2 separate regions of the Homo sapiens genome follow, and region 2 is linked to region 1. The links come from fine-mapping of genetic effects on gene expression. Tissue or cell type: sigmoid colon. Region 1 holds a variant in brackets; the other region holds the start of a gene. All regions are shown on one strand. Distances are from middle to middle.

The links. PIP is the estimated chance that this variant, and not a neighbour inherited with it, causes the effect.
Region 2: it holds the start of RXRG, and the variant in region 1 is fine-mapped to the expression of RXRG in sigmoid colon (GTEx, PIP above 0.99).

Annotation. Positions count from the first base shown.
Region 1 is chr1:165,403,460-165,406,219 of GRCh38, reverse strand. All of the region lies in intron 9 of RXRG (retinoid X receptor gamma), which reads left to right. Among named protein-coding and RNA genes, the nearest start is that of RXRG, 40 kb to the left of the region's middle. The variant G/A (reference allele first, on the strand shown) is at 1,711.
Region 2 is chr1:165,443,474-165,446,233 of GRCh38, reverse strand. RXRG (retinoid X receptor gamma) reads left to right here and starts at 1,108. Exons shown (of 10, transcript NM_006917.5): 1 at 1,108-1,389. The coding sequence starts at 1,341.

The DNA of each region.
Region 1 (2,760 bases):
CAGATCTCTGAGGCCATCTAGCAGATCTCTGAGGCCATCTAGCAGTATAGGTATTTCTGAGTTATTAAAAGATATTCTCAAAACTTTCTTCCAAAGTACAGCTAAGCCAAAGAGTTTTCCCTCTCTGCTAATGCCAGTTAAAATGAGAAAGTATGATCCTCAAATCTCATAGAAAATTGGAAATGAAACGGAAAAGCCTGTCTTGAAGACATTAATTTTGTTTGGGGGATTAATTTTACATGCTCCCAATGCTCACTAATGGTTTCCATTCCTCTGTGAAGTCTAATATCTACTTAGCTGTTTATCCTGAATCATAAGCCAACCTCTAGCAATTGTCCAGAAGAGACTGAGCTGTGTTTTTTGTTGGAGGCTGTGGATGAATTTGAGTAGGTGGGTTTTGGCCCTTTGGTGCAATGAATAGGCAGGGCCTAGTATATTAGTGAGATTAAGCTGTAATAGACCCACCAGATGCCACCAGTTTAACACAAACATCTATTCCTTGCTCACAAATCTGGGTGGGCAGTCAGTTCAGAGAGGTGGTTGCCTTGCATGCCATCACTCAGGGACCAAGACTCCTTTTTTCTTGTGTCTCCACCATGACCCAGAGCCATACTGTGTTTTGCATCCAGATGATGGAAGGGGGAAGAGGTGGAGGGGCAGAGAGGCTAGGCCATATGGGCCAGACCTCGGTCTTAGAGGGCCCTCACCTTTTCATTCACTTTCATTAGCTGATGCCAAGTCACGTGGCCCAGCTGGCCACAAAGGAGGCTGGAGAATGTATCCTGTTGTATGCCGAAGAACAGAAGAAAATATTGGATTTTGGTGAACCTGGTAGTTCACTATAGATGAGATTGAGAGAGCCCTGGCCAAGGGGTCAGGACCTGGCTGCCAGCAATAGCTTGGCCTCTGTCAGGTGTGAGCCTTGGGCAAATCATCTTAATTGAAGCCCTGAGTTGGATGCTTTCTATCAAATCTTCCATTTTTTGAGCACATATTATGTGCAGGACATTACAAATAATGAGAGTCGTACATATCATTTTCCTGAAATTGTCTCTGTCTTGCTGTTTATCTTAAAAAACCAACAAAAAACTCCAACTCACTTTTTTCCTAACTATAAAAGCAATGCATGCTTTGGTTAAAAAAATTATAAAAATATTTTTTAAAAATATGCGGTGGCTCATGTCTGTAATCCCAGCACTTTGGGAGGCTGAGGCTGGCGGATCACCTGAGGTCGGTTGTTCAAGACCAGCCTGACCAACATGTAGAAATCCTGTCTCTACTAATAATACAAAAATTAGCCAGGTGTGGTGGCATGAGCTTATAATCCCAGCTACTCAGGAGGCTGAGGTAGGAGAATCGCTTGAACCGGGGAGGTGGAGGTTGTGGTGAGCTGAGATCATGCCATTGCACTCCAGCCTGGATGACAAGAGCGAAACTCCATCAAAAACAAAAACAAAAACAAAAACAAAAAACAGGTAATAAGAACTTATTGTAAATATTTTGGTATATTTCTTTCCAGTGTTGTCGTGTATCTATTATGTCTCGTGTGTATCCTCGTGTAACTATTATGTATTACGCATGTCATGTATGCATTTCTAGATATGAAATTATACAGTTTGGTGTATTATTTTCTTCCCTTAGCCATTCTAGAAATTTTATTCAATTACTGACAACTACAAATTATCATTTTCAATGGTTTTGTAATATTTT[G/A]CAGTGTGAACATATCCTAATGTATTTAGTCATCGCCCTGTGATTGACATTTGGGTTGTTTCTAATTCATATCACTTTGAAAACTTTGGAACTTGACTCTTCTGCCAGAATATGGCTGGCAGGGGGCTGGGCTGCCTCCACACTCTGGGGAGAGAGGCCAACACTTGTTGCCAGGACTAGGGCAGAACTTAGAACTGCAAGGAGGTGGCAGAGTCCCCTGCATAGTCTCCTGGGTTTGTCCATCACAGCTTGGACTGAGGCTGACTGCCCTGATCAAGTGTTCATAGTTGGCTCAGTAGGTACATCAGGGGTGTCACTGGCCAGGCATGTGGGTGTGCTGAGGGCTGGTCACCTCTGGTCCGCAGAACCTGGTTGAAGGGGATCCTGGCACAGCCAGGTAGAGGCAGATTTCTCAGTGGGAGAGTGCTGCCACTCTGTGGAAACATTTCAGAAGTGCATGTCACAAGGGCCACATTCTGCTTTCACTCTGATCAGAAAGCAGAGATCAAAAGTCAGGTCACAGAACTCACACACACACTCTCTTGCACACACAGCAGGCACCTTCAAAGGCATAAATGCCCCTTGCTGCTAACCTGTGGGTGAGGAATGCTGTGACGTTCATGGGTGTGTTTATTTCTATTAGCCTTGATCTCAGTTCCTAAATCCAGGTCACACAACAAAGAGGGTAGTATGATGGCATACTTCGAATTTTAGATATTGTAAAATCGTGGCCTTTTTAGAGTTAAAAAAATTTTTTAAAGTTAATCCCAGTCTAACTTTGTACTTACAGAGAAGCTGTTTCCTTTGCCTACTTCCATAAAGCTTAACGGCAGAGGCACGGCCGGGAGTTCAGCCTCCTTATTCTCTAACTACCTCTTTCCTGAATGGTGATGCCACTCAAATGCTTTCAGGGGCTTTACCACTGGAGGCTTTTGAAGTAATGTGTAGCATTGGCATAGATCTTTAATTTTTCCATGTAGGGAAGCAATTTCTACTTTTTTAGATGGTGCCGCTTTATTTTCCTTGTATTGCTACATTTCTTTAAAATGT
Region 2 (2,760 bases), 40 kb before region 1:
AACCCTTGGTGATACATAGAATTACTGAAAGAGCCAGAGATGCCTAGGGAAAGGGGGATTATGGGCACAGCAGATCAATCTCAGGATTTGCAGAGGATCCCACTGTGAAAGACTTTTTTGTCTTTCAGGCTTCTCTTGTGTGGCCCCTGGGAGCAGTCTAGCACCTGTGGGCAGAAGCTGTAGGGAAAAGGAGCAGATTTTATCTCTATAAGAAACTTTCTTGTGGTGAAAACTATCTAGAAATGGAATGAGAAAGTGGTGAGCTCCCCATTATTGGAGGTGTTCAAGTATAGGCTGAGCGGTGACTTGTCACGAAAACTGTATGACAGACCCAAACATCAACGGGGTGCTTAGATTCTTTGATCTCGGGTCAGTTCCACACAAGACAGGCTCTGTGTTAGTGAGGACCCAGTGGTGTTTTTGAACAGGCGGCAGGATAACAATGGTATATAAAATAAATGCAGAGAAAGACCTCCACATCAAGCCAACCCCTCCTCCCTACCTGTAAGTTTTCCACCTGAGTGAGCTCTGGCTCCAGCTGCACTTGTCAAACTCCCATTGTTAGAGCACAGATAAATGCTTCCGGCCACCCAAGCAGGAGAGGCCCACCTCAACTTAAGGGCTACTCTATTTTAGTTTTCCGTAGCTGGAGATTGAGTATCACGCTTTTCTAATCTTGTGCTTCTGAAAGGGCCCTGTTCTCTCTTGAACCCCACCCCCTCCTCCTTTCACAGATCAAATACCAAGTACATTGGACAGATAGAAGTTCGAATGAGAAAATGCATTTTAATAAAATCCCATTGATTTTTGTGGATGTAAGTCAAGGAACAGGCACCTAAAGAGTCTTCCATCCCCTGCCGTCTCCCGCCTCTCTCCTGACCTACACCGGGCGGTCATACATCGATTGGCTTCCTAGATAATAGATCGTGCCACCCGGTAGGGACCTCTGGGGACGCGCCGGGAGCTGGAAGAGTCGCACGCAGCAGCCCAACCCTGAGTTAATCAAACTAGCAACAGGATCTCAAGCAGCAGCGACGGCGGTGGCAAGAGTAGCGGTGACGGCGGCGGCGGCGGCGGCGGCAGCATTATGCGTGATTACTGACAGGCACCAGCTGCTGCCGCCACAGCCGTCTCAAACGCACTATGTGGACTCTCCGATCTAGAGGCAGATTCCTGACTAATCCCAGAGGGCTGGCCCAGCCTGTGCTCCCCGGGCTGCTAGGAAGCGATGACCACTCTTGTTAGCCCAAGTTGAAGAAAGCCGGGCTGTGCCTGGGAGCCGAGAGAGGCGGTAATATTTAGAAGCTGCACAGGAGAGGAACATGAACTGACGAGTAAACATGTATGGAAATTATTCTCACTTCATGAAGTTTCCCGCAGGCTATGGAGGTAAGTATCTCCCTTGGGCTTCACTGCGTGGACCTGTATGAGAGACTGAGAAGAAATTGGGAAATACGAATGACTGGATTAGTATTGAATTAAAAGGAGAACATATATGTTTATATGCATATATAGTGTGTATATAGCGTTTCAGCGTGTGTGTGCACGCGTGCATGAGAGAGGAGAGGAGGAAAGAATGGTCTGTAGGTGAGGATACGTTTGCATATCAGAATGAGGATACGGGGATATTCTAAGGAGAGAGTAAACCAACATGCTTGAGAATGTGTCTGAGACAAAGATAGAATAAGAGCATTGTTATAACCCAGTGTGTTTGTGCGGGTGTGAAAAGTGGAAGAGTTAACGGGGAATTACTATGATGTTCCTATTAGCCAACTTGTAATGAGAAAAAATGTGATTAAAAAGGTTTTGCCTATCTTGAGGGTTCCTGGGATACTTTGTAACAAGGGCATGATTGTTTTACTCAAAAGCAGATTTCCCTTTAATTGGATTTTTAAAAAGAAAACATAGTGCTTTAATTTGCTACTGTGTTTTCCTTCCCCTGTTTTCTTTCCTTTGATTTGCTAATAGCCTCTTCTCTCCTCCCCTGCTGCTGCCCCCAATTCTACTGCAAGAGTTGCTGCAATCACTTCCACTCTGGGGGTAGAGATCTGGGGATGGGGGGTTGGGGCTCTTAGAGAATTGGCAAACTGAAGATTCAAGTCACCGTGCCAGGCAGGGCAGCCCAGTCACACTTCACAGAAGCTTCCGGAGACTAGGTCCTCAGGCTGCCTTAACGCCCAAGCACATCCGTCCCAAGGATCCCTTGATTTAGTGACAGAAACAGTACAGCCGCCCAGCTCTGAGTAAATGGAAGCAACAGCTGACCAACTGGCCTGTCGCTTGTCAGTTGGAGGCATGCAGCTTATGTTGCTGGGAGCCAAAGAAAGATTCTGGCAGGCAAGACAGCAGAAATTCTTATAAGGTTTTGAAAATTGAAAAGTCCCTGCTCTCCAGACTTCCTCCGTGGACCAATTCATCTGAAGGCTTGGGACTAAAGCTTGCCTAACTTGGCTGGGCAGAACCCCCTGGGAGGCATGGTGACACACTGCAAGGTAGAAGTGATCTCTGTCACCAGGAGGTGTTAGACCTGGGAGTTTGCACATTCATTCAGGGTAGTTTTTATGAGGCAGGCATGGTGTTGGGCACTGGGAATACAAATATGAATGAGACACAGTCTCTGCCCTTTGGGACTGGGGCAGGCTTGTTACACAGGCACATTATAATACTGCATGATGTGTGTAATAGCAAACGTAGGTTGTACTTGGACTTGGGGTGAGGGCCATGGAAATGTTCCCGAGGTGATGTTCAAGTTCTTTGGGC